Linked DNA regions of Homo sapiens: region 2 is linked to region 1. The links come from fine-mapping of genetic effects on gene expression. Tissue or cell type: whole blood. Region 1 holds a variant in brackets; the other region holds the start of a gene. All regions are shown on one strand. Distances are from middle to middle.

Region 1 (8,000 bases):
AGATTCCTTTCCTCACATGTTTTCTTGCTGACCTTCTCCCCACTATCACCCTGCTCTCCTGCCGCATTCCTCTTGCTGAGATAGTGAAAACAGTAATAAATACTGAGGAAACTCAGAGACCAGTGTTGGTGCGGGTCCTCCATATGCTGAGCACTGGTCCCCTGGGCCCACTTTTCTTTCTCTATACTTTTGTCTCTGTGTCTTCTTTCTTTTCTCAGTCTCTGGTCCCACCTGACGAGAATTACCCACAGGTGTGGAGGGGCTGGCCCCCTTCATTCAGTAAAGATAGCTGTTTATTTAACACAGCATTTCTCCAACATCTGACAACCAAACCTTTTTTTTCTACAAGCACTCCTTAAAATGTTGTAGAAAGTGAACTTTAGAAACGCTCTTAAGTTTTTCCTAAATGAAATGATTATACTCTATTTGAAAAAATTCTGACAATTTACCTTGCCAAGTTGCTGTAGAAATTTCAAATGTCTCTCTTCAAACTGTGTAGGATCCCGGTCTTCAAAGGCACCAGAAAACCCCAGGGCACCTATCCTCATATTTGGTAACATGTCATTTTCTGTTAATAGTTCATAATCTGGAGAAATAAAGAATATTATCACCTTAAATTAGCAAATAACATTCTCTGGACTAAACTGATATACATTCAAGTTGACCAAAATAATCGTGAGTTAAAAATACTAAATGATACAGGGAAACTCAAATAGTTTCAATTATATTAATGGGAGCCTTTAATCATTACCCATAATCTGACAGGCCTTCAAGAGAGACTTTGCAAAGGATAAAATTTTGTTTTCCAAAATAAGAAGTTTTAGTATTCATAAAGTAAGGTAATATACTGATACTTATTGTGAGAAAGGTGAGTAGTACTGGGGTAGAAAGCACCTATAGGTCAAACACATGCATTTCAGCTCAGTATTTTGAAAAAGGAGAGAACAAAGCAAAACAAATACAGCTCATGTTTAGAGAATCAATCAATTATAAAATATGAGAAATGTTAAAGAGAATTGTTTTTTAAAAGTCAATTTAAGCAAAAAAAAAATACTATAATTTACAACTCACTAAATGGAAAACTAAAATTAGGTTACTGAAAGAAAAGGTCTTTTTGGCTGGGAGCGGTGGCTCAAGCCTGTAATCCCAGCACTTTGGGAGGCCGAGGCGGGCGGATCACAAGATCAGGAGATCGAGACCATCCTGGCTAACACGGTGAAACCCCGTCTCTACTAAAAATACAAAAAATTAGCCGGGTGTGGTGGCGGGCGCCTGTAGTCCCAGCTACTCAGGAGGCTGAGGCAGGAGAATGGCGTGAACCTTGGAGGTGGAGCTTGCAGTGAGCCGAGATCGCGCCACTGCACTCCAGCCTGGGCGACAGAGTAAGACTCCATCTCAAAAAAAAAAAAAAAAAAAAAGAAAAGGTCTTTTTATAAAAATGAAAATAATTCTCAGTCAAGGAGATTAGAATATGTATAAAGCATGAAAAGCCATATGAACATAAGAAATTAAGAGGGCCCAAATGACATCAAGAAAATGTTTTAAAGGAATTAAAAATTAGTAATGATTCATTAAATACAATAAAGATAGAAAGCTGGAAAATCAATAAGATCATTCAAATACATACCTGGAGTAAACAAACTGTTAAGATCTCGTATGATGGCTCTGAAAGAAGGCCTGAAATCTGGTTCATAATCCATACAATTATTTATAAGGTTTGCTAATTCTGCCCACTTTGGTGCAGGAAGCTGATGCCTATCTTCATAAAATTGTAGCTTCTATAATTAAAGAACCACAAACTGAGAATAAATTGTGTAATGCCACACCAACCTTCTTTTTAAAATTAGATGGGCTAAAAAATACAAATCATGTGAAAGAAATATGAAAGTTCAGAGATAGAGTAATTCTAACTTAGTCTATATAAACTTACTCTTTGAGAATCCAGAGCACTTAGAGGTTTATCTCCTCCACTGCAGATTTCCCACAAAGTGGTACCAAAACTCCATTTGTCTGTTGCCAAATTTAAATTTTTAGGATTTTCAATGCATTCAGGTGGTACCCATGGTATTCTCTCCTGAAGAACTTTTAAATGATACGAACAGAGTAGGGTTAAATAATTCACAAGTAAACCAATCTTTTATATGTAAATAGCTTTAAAGTTCAAATCATTTGAATAATCAGGCCTATTTTCTTTATTTTGGAGGGGTTGGATGTGCACATGCACATGACTGCATAAGCTTAAGAACCAGAAGGGACCTTCAAGATCATCTAATTCAATATTTCATCTTTAACAATGACAACATGGAGACATATGATTGAGTAATCTGCCCAAAGCCACACAATTTGTTAGCAGCAGAGACAGAATTAGAATCCTGTACAGTGAGTTCTGAATCAACTAATCTTTCCATTAAACCATAGTGTCTCAACTGGCATACCATTTTCTCAACCTCTTTCCATTAGTTTTACCTTCAAAAAAAAAAAATTTTTTTTTTGAGACAGGGTGTCACTGTGTCACTCAGGCTAGAGTGCAATGGCACGATTGCAGCTCACTATGCTTTGACCTCTTGGGCTTAAGTGATCCACCCAAGCGCTTTAGGAAGCAATCAGCCTCCCAAAGCATTGGAATTACAGGCATGAGCCACTGCACCTGGCCAAATCTTTTTTTTTTATATAGTTTATCCTAAAATTGCCCCATGATACTTTTTGGTATTTCTTCATAATGCGTAAGTAGTAAAGGTAATGTTACATCATTCAGAGATGTTCTAATGATTTAATAGCCATGGCAATTCCCACTTGCAGATAAAAAAAAAAACCCAAGGACCAACAAGCATTTATGGCAGATGGAAGGCTAAATTGCACCAAAATATTCTAGATATATGGAATTGATATAGGTGGGCTCTGCTCAAATCACGGAATTTCTCAAGTAAAGTTTCTGTGGTCTTTGATTCCACCAGAAGGACTGTATTCAAGAAAGGAAGAAGCAATATAACCCTACTTTCTGGTATTCTGACATAGACAGACAGACAAATAGATTGATTGACAAATACCTTCACCATATGAATACATTTTTTTCCATCTTCACTTCCGATTCCAAAGGATAAAATTTTCCAGGATACCAGATGTAAGACCCTGTAAGAATTTTCTGCCATACTCC[C/A]TACTCCTGTACTACTGCCCAGTTATCACTGTCTTCACTGTCAGATAAGTCATTAAGTTTAAGTACTATTAGCTTAAATAGGACACATCAGTGCACAAAAATTGATCAATTTAGAATCTAAATTTAGAACATCCAATTAGAGAAATTATCTAAGATAACAAAATTCAGTTATAATTATCTAGACCCAAAAAACCCCTCTCAACTATCTGACTGAAATTTGTATTTTTAACCCACTGTGTTAAGTAGTAAAGATGAACAAACACAAATCAAAGTTTTTTTAAGGTTTTAAAAAGTCAGAATTAGCTGGATAATTAAACTAATTTCTTCACAGAGGATAGAAAAAAATCCTAAAATCTCAGGCTAAATTTTTATTTAGTGACGAGAAGAAAAGAATATTTAGAAAATTTACTTGTGGCTCAAGGAATATTACAAAACTTCATACTAAAAATGGATAAAATCCTATCCTTCATACATAATTAGAGATTAAAACTGTTTTTAAAAAATCACCTCACAGTCCATGGTTATATGCTTATAAGAAAGAAAAATAGAGACTAAGATTTAACTAACAATTTAAATTGCTAAAAGTGATAATTTTATTATTAATCAGGAACATACAAATTAAATGGAATTCAAGGAAAATTAACAACATGCCCTTTACACCACTGCCCAAGTAAAGCTTAGTAACATTATATATAATCCTTCTAGAACTTACTGTCCTTTGGCAAAACTGTAATACTAATGCCAGGATCACTAAGTTTGATGAAAGGAGGATTTCCTGTCTTCCTGTCTTCTTCTCTGATAAGCAGAATATTTTTGGCACATACATTCCCATGAATAAGGGTGTTTTCTTCCTATTAGAGTTAAACGCACATATATTCAAATATCAGTCCACAAGTACTGGAGCATTTAGTATGTTCAAGCCCCCAAAACAGATTTAAAGAAGAAAAATACATGATAGTATAATAATTTGGAGGCATGCATTGAGAAAAAAGGAAATTTATGACTCCTATGCTTCCTGTTTTACATTTTAAATAACACAATAATCTATGCTTGTGATGAAATGAATAAATTAAAACTACCAATGCCATTTCACATGAGTTCTAAGGCTGACATGGTTTGTGTTTCTGGATGGGAGCTGACATTAAGAAATACTACTTCAGTTCTGCAGCAGGACATAGGTGCACCCTGAGGGGTCTGATGACTGGCAGTCCCCCTGGTATTCTTCTCTGTCAACACCGCTTTCTCATGGACCATAATGTACAATGGCCCAAAAATACAGAAGCACATACTTCTGCATAATTTTTGGTTGAATTTTCTAAATCCAAAAGACACAACATACAGATTGTCTATTAGTAGTTCTAAGATATTGATGGGATGACAAAACTTTTTTTTCAAAAGTGATTTTACATACATAAACATATGCCTAAAGTAATCTCTTTTTATCACCTAACACAGACTATTTTACATGAATTGGCATCCAATTACAGATTTATTTTTTGTTTCCAGGTAAAGATAATTTGTATATTGTTTTATAAAATAAAATAGTATCTTTTGATAAAAAGGTTGTACTACTTACTAGAAAATGCATGGCCCATGCCAACTGTTTAGCAACTTCAAGTTTCCATAATATATTTATACAATTTTTATTCTTTTTCAGATATGTATCTAGTGATCCAAATTTTACAAACTCCTGAACCAGAATATCTGCATTAAAATATAAGTAATAATAATAAGGCTTAAGTATAAATATAATTAAATATATGTAATTTAAATCTTTATACTTACATGTGACCATTATAGGTAAAGAAATTAAATTGGCAAAACTCACAACTTTAAAGAAAACTTAATGGATACACAGCATTATATTTTTGGTTTTTAGTTTACTTACAACAGCAAGAGTAGGAGTCTAAACAATTATATATTATTATATATAACATAAATGTATAATATATAATATACCAGCACACCTTTATATATTAGTACTGAATTATGGCTGGTTTTTAAAAATAAATGAAAATTTCTCAATTTCTCTTCCACATAACTTTTTAGACATTCAAACCTTCCTGAAGTTCTTCTACACACAAAAATTACTAACAATTGTCTATAGTACTATAGACATAAAGGAGAATTTGAGTTCTAGCTCCATTTAATCTTTTAATTCTGCAAAAAATACAGAAATGTTTTGCGCTGCTTTATCTTTAAAACTTTTTTAAAAAAATATATAAAACATATTTTGCCAGAAAAACAAGTGTTGGCTTCCAAAAACAATCCTGGATTCCTTCATGGTCCACAGGAGCCTCTCAGATACCTCCATATAACAGGTTCCAAACCACTGCTTTTGAGAAGATTATCAATTTTCAAAGATATGAAAAAATGTCATACAAGTGTAGATGTGTATTTAATCTGCATTACTAGTGGAAAATAGGGAATTATATAAACAATTTTCTTGAATGTAAACTTTGTGAGGCACTAAAATAAAGGCATACCTCGAAGATATTACCAGTTTGGTTTTAGACTACCATAATAAAGCAAGTCATGAATTTCTTGGTATCCCAATGCATATAAAACTTGTATATACACTATAATGGAGTCTATTTAGTGTGCAACAGCGTTATATCTTAAAAAAAACAAAGAATATATCTTTTTAAAAATACTTTATTGCCAAAAAAGGTGCTAATGATAATCTGAGCCTTCAGAAAGTTGTAATCTTTTTGCTTGATGTTAATCGCTGCTGACTGATCATGGTGGTGGCTGCTTAAAGTTCAGGTAGCTGTGGCAGTTTCTTAAAATAAGACAACAATGAAATTCACTGCAGACTCTTCCTTTCATGAAAGATTTCTCTGTAGCATGCAATGCTGTTTGATAGCCTTCTACCCACAGTAGAACTTTACAGGGTCAGTCCTCTCAAACCCTGCAACTGCTTGATCAATCAAGTTTATGTAAAATTCCAAACCCTTTGTTGTCATTTCACAATGTTCACAGCATCATCACTAGGAGTAGATTCCATCTTAAGAAACCACTTTCTCTGCTTATCCATAAGAAGCAACTCCTCCTTCTTTCAGGGCTTATCGTGAGATTGTAGCAATTGAGTCACATCTTCAAGCTCCACTTCTTAGTTCTCTGTTTCCACCATCTCTGCAGTGACTTCCTTCATTAAAGTACCATATCCCTCAAAGTCATCCAGGAGGGTTAGAATGAACTTTTTCCAAATTCCTATTAATGCTGCCATTTTGATCTCCTTCCATGAACCATGAATGCTATTCCTGGCATCTAGAATGGTGAATCCTTTCCATAAGTTTTTCTACTTACTTTACCCAGATCCACCAGAGGAATCACTATCTATGGCAGCTTAGCCTTACAAAATGTATTTCTTAGATAATAAGACTTGAAAGTTGAAATAACTCCTTGATCCATGGGCTACAGAATGGATGTTGTGTCACCAGGCCTGAAAATAACATGAATATCCTTGTACATCTCCATCAGAGCTCTTGGGTGACCAGGTGCATTGTCAATGATCAGTAATACTTTGAAAGCAATCTTTTTTTCTGAGCAGGTCTCAACAATGGGCTTAAAATAGTCAATAAACCATGCTATAAACAGATGTGCTGTCATCTAGGCTTTCTTGTTCCATGTATAGAGCACAGGCAGAGTAGACTTAGCATAATTCGCAGAGCCCTGGGATTTTTGGAATGGTAAATGAGCGCTGGTTTGAATTTCAAATCACCAATGGCATTGGCCCTTAGCAAGAGGGTCAGCCTGTCCTTCGAAGCTTTGAAGGCAAGCACTGACTTCTCCTCTCTAGCTGTGGAAGTCCTAGATGGCATATTCTTCCAACAGAAGGCTGTTTTGTTTACATTTGAAAATCTGTTTGTTAGTGTCACCATCTTCATCAATGGTCCTTGCTAGATCTTCTGGATAACTTGCTGTAGCTTCCACATCAGCATTTGCTGCTTCACCTTGCACTTATGCTGTGCACATGGCTTCTTTTCTTAAACCTCATGAACCAACCTCTGCTAGCTTCCAACTTTTCTTCTGCAGCTTCCTCACCTCTCTCAGCCTTCATAGAATTTAAGAGCATTAAGATCTTGCTCTAGATTGGGCTTTGGCTCAAGGGAATGTTGTGACTGGTTTGATCTTCTATCTAGAACTTTCTCTGTATCATCAATAAGACTGTTTCACTTTCTTGTAATTTATGTGCTCACAGGAGTAGCACTTTCAGTTTCCTTCAAGGACTTTTCCTTTGGATTCATAACTTGCCTTTTTAGTGCAAGAGGCCTAGCTTTCAGCTTGTCTTGGCTTTCAGCATGCCTTCCTCTCTAAGCCATCTTCATCAATGGTCTTTGCTAGATCTTCTGGATAACTGCTGCAGCTTCCACATCAGCGTTTGCTGCTTCATTTCTAGCTTTCCATTTAAAGTGAGAGACGGGTGAATCTTCCTTTCACTTGAACATTTAAAGACCATTGTGTGATTATTAAATGGCCTAATTTTAATATTGTTGTCTCAGGGAATAGGGAGGCCCCAGGAGAGGGAGAGAGACAGAGGAATGGCTCATTGATGGAGCAGTCAGAGCACACACTGCATTCATCTATGAAGTTTGCCTTCTTATATTCTCTCTGTTTGGGACACCCCAGAATAATTACAATACTAGCATTAAAGATTACTGATCACAGATCACCATATGATTTTTTTAAAGTTTGAAATGTTGCTAGAATTACCAAAATATGACACAGAGACATGAAATGAGCACATGCTGTTGGGAAAATGTTGCTGACAGAGTTGCTAGACACTGGGTTGCCGTAAACCTTCAATATGTAAAAAATACAATATCTAAGAAGCACAATAAAG
Region 2 (8,143 bases), 94 kb after region 1:
AACTGGGCAGAAGTTATAAACATATTACATAGGAGAGGAAATATATTAAGCCATGATCAGCTGGTACTAGCTTTATATCAATAATTTTATCAGAAAAGCAAACTAAAAGCTAAGGCAGAGGTTTCCAAACCCATTCAGGGAGCTCTGAGTCTTAGCAAATTTTTCACGACACCCCCAGGCCAAAAGAAATAGGTTTGAACAACTTACTTAGTAGTTATGTCCTTACAACTTAGTGTAGAGCACTGTAGAACTTATCAAACCTTAGAATCAAATTGGACAATACCACACTGTCATTTCCTGTTCTACATTCATTTTCATGTAGTAGTTGCTTTTTATCGGAGCAACCTCTGAAAATACATCTTTACAAAGACATGACATTGTAGAAACGGGTGTAGGTATCTAATATTGAAACCATGAACCAACTCAAAACACAAGTTCAAGCCTGAGGTGCTCTGGGCACCTTGGCACACAGTTTGGGAAACTGGGAGCTAAGAGGAGGGGTCTAAAAGGGAGTGGGGAAGGGTGGGAAATGTAATGGGAGAAGAGCAAAAGAAAGGTCTTAGCACAGTTAACCACAAGGGGGCAGCACAATAATTGGTAGGGGCAACACAATGGGGGTTTAAGCAGAGACACAAAGTCAAACCTTTCCATACAAAGGCTGTAATACTCCCTCACCAGTTTAAGACCTTGAAGTCCTTTATCTCTTTATACTAGAAAGGAGGAAACACGAGTTACAGGCAGATCACCTTATGCAGTCATTCTGCCCTTCTCTGAATCTCCTTTGCCTCCCAGCCGTGATAGTAGCCAAGACTTTTATGACAGCCAGGCAGTTTACCACTTTGCATGTGTCTTACTCACTTCTCACAACAATCTTATAAGAAAGTGAAGCTAAAAGAGTCGTAAATAATATAACTCTTTTTTTCTTTCTTTTTTTTTTTTTTTTTAGACAGAGTCTTGCTGTGTTGCCCAGCCTGGAGTGCAGTGGTGAGATCTCGGCTCACTGCAACCACCACTTCCCAGGTTCAAGCAATTCTCCTGCCTCACCCTCCCGAGTAGCTGGGATTACAGGTGTGCACCACCACGCCCGGCTAATTTTTGTATTTTTAGTAGAGATGGGGTTTCACCATGTTGGCCAGGCTGGTCTCAAGCTCCTCACCTCAAGTGATCCTCCTTCCTCAGCCTCCCAAAGTGCTGGGATTACAGGCGTGAGCCACCATGACCAGCCGTAAATAATGCAACTCTTAAGTGGCAAGAACACCAGGATTCAAATCCAGATCTCACTCCAAAGCCAATGCACTTTCCTATTCTGCCTCAAAAGCATCCCACCTTTCAGTAATAGCCAGGTGAAAGAGAAACAATGTCATATTCCCTTCCCATATCTGAGACACCTGTCTCAAATCACCAAAGGCACACACACACAAAATTCCCTAATGAGTCCCTAAAACTGCTATAAATTGCAAATACAGGATATTCAGTTAGAGCAAAAACAAGCATGGTGTGCTCTTCTGGCCAGCAAGTACTGCAGCTTTCCTATTCAGGTAAATACATGTACTATTAAGGCAAGTGCTGGATACATCCAGTCTGTACATACGTTACACACCAACAGACAAATGCATGTACAAGCAAATAATTCTCACACTTAAAGTGGTATAAGGTGAGGCGGATGGGGGAAGGGAGGCCAAAAATTGATTATTCATCTTCAAATGTTCTGGGTGTTATATCAAAATACAAGCTGATCATCCCTTATCTGAAAAGCTGCAAAATCTGAAACATTTTGAGCACCAACATGATGCTACAAGGGGAAAATTCCCCGCATAGGTACTTAATACAAACTTTGTTTCATGCACAGACGTATTAAAAATATTGCAAATGACTTAGTGGCTGTGTGAATAAGGTCTATATGAAACAAACGAATTTCGTATTTACACTTGGGTCCCATCCTCAAGATGTCTGATTTTGTATATGCAAACATTCCAAAATTTTTAAAAAAAATCCAAAACACTTTTGGTCCCAAGCATTCTGGAGAAGGGATACAAAATCTTTATTTGCAGTAGCCCAACAACTCACTGTACAAACTTATTATGAAACCAAAAGCAATCATTTCCCTTATTCCCACTTCCAGTTTCCTTCTCCATACTCAGCCGCTCCTACCCTTTCATTCAGAGAAATGGAGTTTCTCCTAACAGATTAGTAATTACTGGAAAACAAACTGGGTAAATTCAACCGACACAGCAAGCTTAGGCAGATAAAACCATGAGGAAACATTCAATGTGGTAGCAGAAACCCCAGCAAGAATAGCTAACGTGTTCTCCCAAAAGCTATCTCTTATTGCTTGGAAATACTCCTCTTTAAAGGATTAAGAATCTCTGGCTGCTTAAGAAGAAAGGGTAATGGACAACGTTTTTCGTTTCTCTGCAAAGTCACGTTATGTGTAAAGCCAACAAAAAAATGTTTCTTAAAGGATCCAAGACGAACAACAAAACACCCCAAAATTACTCTCCCAGATCAACATTAAAAGTTTAGCACTGACATTTTCAGAAGAGTAAGCAACAATGAGCCCTGCCTCTCTTCACACGCTTCCAACCTTCCCTACGCACGCACTCCCAGCTCCAGACACCTTCGCCTTTACTGCAGCGATAAAGGACAGCACACCCACCGTCGCGGGAGGAGGAGGAAGAGCCTCTTTTTCTGCAGAAGAGAAACAGTTCACATCTTGTTCCTGTTGCCTGCTTCTGAAACCTAAAAACAGAAGCAGCAGTTAACTACTACCACATAAATCCAGGGGAAACAAATGCTTTTTCTAGGCTGTTTAAGTGTCTAGAAAATTTTAAAAAGGAATAAGGAGGCGGGAGCGAGGGAATTATAAGACACAAATGGAAGCAAATATCACCAGCAAGACTCGTTCTAGGTGTCGTCTTAAAGAGGAAGATTTTTCTGGCTCAGAAGTTTGCTGCCACTAGCAGGGGGCAGGCGGGACCAAAAGGTAGGAAGGGGGTGGAGAGACAGCTGCTGCCCCCCACCCAGAAGCCAGGCAGAGATAACACCCACCGGCTACACAGATCGGGCGACCAGAGCGCGCCCTCGAGCCCGCAGGGGCGGCTCCTACCCGGCGGGTCAAGGTCTGCGAAGCCCCGGGACGGGCACGGCTCTGAACGACCTCCAGGCTGGGCCCTCGGGGGCCCTCCAGTGTGGGCTCAGCTCCCACTCACATCCCTCGGCAGCGAGGACCAGGCCTCTCCCTGCGCCGCAGCAGCCCTCAGCCCCGACGCGCGCCGCAAGCCCGGGCCGAGGGGCCCGACCGGCCGAGAAGCCGAAGTGGCGACGCGAACACCCAAGCGAGCCGGGCGCCGGCCCAGCCTGTCAGCGCCGAGGGAGGCCGTTAGCGGCGTCCGCTGCTGCCCCCTTCTGCTCCTCTTCCTCTCTCCTTCCTGCAGCCCCACACCACTCCCACTTCGGGCAGCCGGGAAGCCCGTCACAGTTGTCTCCACCCTCTCCGGGGCCACACCGTCTTCTCAACGCCGCGGGCGACACTGGCTTCGCCGCCCTGCTAGCTTCGAACTCAGCCTCCCGGTTGGCCTGCAGTCTCCCCGAATGGCAGGAGACCGGGCCGGATAGAGGCTGGGGGAGAGCCGGACGCGCGTCCTGCAGTGCGCGTGCGCCGCTCGGTGCTGGTCGCGGGACCGGCAGGCGCGGGCCACGCAGGGCAGCTGCCTCTCGGGAAGCCGGCGAGCGCGCGTGGAGATTCCTGGGACGGCCCCTGGGCGTGAGCGCGCAAGGAAGTTAAGGCGGCGGCGCCTCGCGAAACGCTGGTGCCCGGCTGGAGCTAGGCGCCAGCGCTGGGCCCGGCCCTCACTAGATGGGCGGGTGTGTGTGTGGCCGCCGCCCTCCAGGGAAGCGGCCGGGAGTGACTCACCCTGGCTGGCTCCCCAGCGCGCAGCCTGCACTGGAGGAGGCCGGGCTGCCTCCGCGCGGAGACTCCCCTCCCGCACACTTCTCCGCTTTCGGCTTTTCCTTCCACCTCCCGGGTACAGCAGACCCGTCCTTCCCCAGTCCAGGCTGCTAGGCCGAGGGGAAGTGGCGCCGGGGGCCGGGGACAACGCGCTCACACACGCTGTTTCGTGGCAATGCGCCCTCGAGAGCCTGACTCCCATCAGCCACCTTGGCTGGAAAGGGGTGAGGGTGGGATGAAGCGCCCAGCCGCCTGCGGGTTGGCAACAAGGCCTAGCGAATGTTTCTCCTAGAGGAGAAACAACTTTACCGGCGTGGCCTGGTGTAGCCCGGGAGAGGGTGGAGACAACGGCTGTGACGGGCTTCCCGGCTGCCAAAGGGCCTCATTCATTCATTCAAATATTTACTGAGTGTCTACTAGGTGCCGGGCTGTAGGTCCCCAGAGATACCAGGTGAACACGACCCCACACACTCCTTGCCCTACTGGATTGTATTCTGATGGAAGCGACAAAACAACAAACAACGCTTTAAATGCATAATGTGCGGGGTGTGTAATTGCCACTAAGAAAATGCATAGTTTTCTGCTGCCATATACATAATAACAAAGAAAAGGAGTAGAAAGTGAGGAGGGGGTGTGCTATTTTACGGTGGCCAGGAACGATTTCCTAGAATAAGTGACATTTGAGCAGAGATCTGAAGGATGAGAATGAACCAGTCCCATGACTATCTGGGAAAAGAATTTCAGGCAGAGGGACTCCTGAAGGCAAAGACCTTGAGAAGGGAAAGTGTTTGGCAAGTTCAAGGATCAGGAAAGAGGTCACTGTGGCTGGAGGACACGGAAGGAGGGGGCAGTGGTAAGAGGTGAGGCCAAAGAAGTAGCCTGGCACCAGATCGTGTAGGGATTTTTTTCAAGTATTAGCCCTCTTTCTGTCAACCTAAATGAAGTGACGCATTCATAGCTCCTGTTTCCCCATACACAACTGATGCTGCTCTTCAGGTCTGTCTTGCACTTAATGGTTTCTTTAAATAAACCTCACCAAAGCAACTCCTGCATTTCTTCTTACATAAGACCCATTGCAAAAGGTCTTTAAGCAAATGATAGCAGCATAGGAAATTACTTGAATTCACCCTGAATCTTTTAAATAATGAACTAGAGCTGTATAAGAGGGAGGGATTTACAGGAAAATTGCATTCCTACGGCTACTGCTTCATAGGTAATATATGGGCAAAGTTAGTAAGAATTTCTAATTATTAATTGTGACTCAATGGCTTAGAATATCAAGGCCGCAATTACAAACAGTGACTACCAAAAGAGTTCCTTTTTTCCTGCAAACAAAAACTGCTACTGAGGTAAAAGCTAGAACACAGACCCACATAATGAAGAAGAGCTAAAGATGAGCTTAACGTCATGGGTAAATGAAAAGCATCACAACTGTGGAAATGGAAATGTGATATTTTGTGAGGGGAAGAAAATGCTTGTTTTAGAACTCTGAAACAGTATTACTTTCATTATAAGTGATGTTTCTATATTTTGCAGTGATATACTTATGTAACTAGGCATGGTATCTCTTACTGTCCACAGCCTGTTTGCAGGGAGAAGCCATTTGAAATTGGTGAATTGCAGGGAGAAGCCATTTGGAAGTGGTGAATATTGAGGATATTTTTGTGGGGGAGCAGGTTATTTTCTTAATATTAGAGATGTGGGTATGGAAGACAAGGTGGACAAGGGGTATATTATTCATAAGCCTATAGAATTGAGAAATCTTCTGTCTCCCCACATAGAAAGATGAAGCAACTTGCCTCCTGTCATTCAGAAAGTGAAAGCCTCCCTCATCACTAAGACATGATTTTAAGTCAATGCTAACCTGGAATGTTGAGCTTTTTTCACTCTGTATTAACAGAACTTTTGAGCTCTTTATGTGATTCCTGGTAGTGGCATCACTAGAAATTTGCTACTCAAGGCAAACATTTCAGGAAATTTCCCTTATTCTTTGATAATGATGAAAAGAATTCCAAGGAATTTGACCAAGTCTTTCAAAACATTCATACAATATGAAGAAACAAGAAATATGAGCTGTAAGGTAACACATTTAGATTCAAAACTTTGTGGCAAGATCTAATGGGAAAACTTAACAGCTAGTTGTTGACTGTGGGGCTGTGTGTAGTGTCTTGAGGTTTTGTCCTTCCAGTGTTGGCCAGCATGGCAGCAGTGATTCTTGACTGCTATGCCCAAACCTTCCCCCCACCCCAACAAGACTGCCTCAGTAAGTGTGAGATGGCGCATTGGCTTCTATAACTTTTTAACATTTTTAGGTGGTTTGACATAAAGCCACGGTTGAAAATCCATGGCCAAGGGTTTAAGAACTTACGCTTTAAGAGTCCAGACCACCCAGGTTTCTTTCAATCACAGCTTTTGCCAGGAAAGTTTATTTAGATTTTCTAAGCCTCTGTTTCCTCATCAGTATAATGAGGATAATAATCTCCCCTGTAGAGAGATTTTGAAGATTAGGTGAAAAAGTATTTTAAAACCCTTAGCACAGTTATCAAATGTCTATTATATCTGTGGCAGGACCAATTTACAGATATAACCAAGCTGGGAGGTATAAGAAATTTGTTGAATTTTATTAGGAAGATTGAAGTATTTGTCACAGTTTATTGCACTACACAGGACTGTGTGGGCTGGTAGGATAAGGGCTGAGTTGTAATAGAGATAAATGTGAAGATCTCCATTTGAATTTTAAAAAACAGAACTATATCATTAAATGATGAGACTGAAAACATCATTCTTAAGGAGGGACATAAATGTGAGCACAAAAAAAGATGCAGGAAAGTCCTTGGAAAGGGAAACAGGCTCAAACGAAGGGCTGGGGAGAAGTCCAGGAGTTAGTTTGTTTCTTTCCAAAACAGGGAAGATGTACTTTCCTGAAGGCAGAAAGGAATAAAATATGGAAAGAGGCTTATTTATTCCAAATGTAGGATTATAAGCCAAAAGACAAAGGCAAGGGGTATTAATCAAGTAGACAGACAAGCAAGCAATGTTTTTTTTACTACAAATCATCCAGATATTTTAGTACCATTTATTCCAAAATTTGGTTGGCTATGGCAAAGAAATTTTCCAATACCTCCTCGGTACTTCAGCATGTCCTTGTCTCTACATCAGTTCCCTTATCCTTACTTTCAATCACAAAAAGAAAAGGAAAACAAAAAAGATATTGCCAGTGAACAGATCCCTCATTCCCTTGAGATAACTGGATGTATTAAACTTTGGTGCTTGAAAACCAAAACAGTTTTCCCTTTGTAAGCCAAGAATTAATAACCTCTTTCAAGTGAGGATAATTATTTGGCAAAATATGTAAAATGACCATTATAACTATGTGCTACTTTTAAAAAATTTAACTTAAAACTGTTAGACATATAGTTGCCTATTCACGAAAAACATTTTTTGTGTGTGTGAAAGGATTCATGCCAGCATTCACTCTTAAAAACAAAATTTCGGCCAGGCGCAGTGGCTCACACCTGTAATCCCAGCACTTTGGGAGTCCAGCGTGGGTGGATCACAAGGTCAGGAGATCAAGATCTCCTGGCTAACATGGTGAAACCCTGTCTCTACTAAAAATACAAAAAATTAGCCAGGCATGGTGGCATGTGCCTATAGTCCCAGCTACTCAGGAGGCTGCGGCAGGAGATTCACTTGAACCTGGGAGGTGGAGGTTGCAGTGAGCCGAGATCATGCTACTGCACTCCAGCCTGGGCAACAGAGCAAGACTCCCATCTCAAAAAATAAAATAAAATAAAATAAAAAATAAAAATAAATCCCTAGCATAATTGTTAGTTTACAGAGACTCAGAGACTTAATTCCTGAGTCCTAATTTAGACTAAGGATTCTGTCCTCTTTGCTGAGAACTGTCCTCTTCACCCAGAGTAGCCAGCCTCTGGCACCTACGTTCTAGTTTGTGACACCCTGCTTCCCACAACCCCTTGATTGGACCAAGCTGAGCCATCAGAGTCTCACTCCTGGGGAATTTGGAGTTGGGATTCAAAAACAGCAAATCAGACTTTTCTGTTCACTTGAAATGAGGTTACCCATGCTCTAAAGTTAAGGCTGCCACTATGAGGTTACCATCTTCATTCTTGCACAGAAAGCTGATTTGCTATAGGAGAGAAGAATGCCACAGAAGAGAAGAGAGAGAGAATG

Evidence for each region. PIP is the estimated chance that this variant, and not a neighbour inherited with it, causes the effect.
Region 2: it holds the start of JAK2, and the variant in region 1 is fine-mapped to the expression of JAK2 in whole blood (TOPMed, PIP above 0.99).

Annotation. Positions count from the first base shown.
Region 1 is chr9:5,074,311-5,082,310 of GRCh38, reverse strand. JAK2 (Janus kinase 2) reads right to left here. Exons shown (of 25, transcript NM_004972.4): 15 at 4,731-4,858; 16 at 3,867-4,005; 17 at 1,931-2,082; 18 at 1,628-1,778; 19 at 450-586. It also overlaps a transcript of INSL6 not described here. Among named protein-coding and RNA genes, the nearest start is that of JAK2, 93 kb to the right of the region's middle. The variant C/A (reference allele first, on the strand shown) is at 3,155.
Region 2 is chr9:4,980,536-4,988,678 of GRCh38, reverse strand. JAK2 (Janus kinase 2) reads right to left here and starts at 3,407. Exons shown (of 25, transcript NM_004972.4): 1 at 3,049-3,407; 2 at 2,657-2,739. RefSeq lists enhancers at 2,605-2,654, 3,455-3,594, 3,523-4,356 and silencers at 2,985-3,314, 3,705-3,784, 3,825-3,874, 5,325-5,454.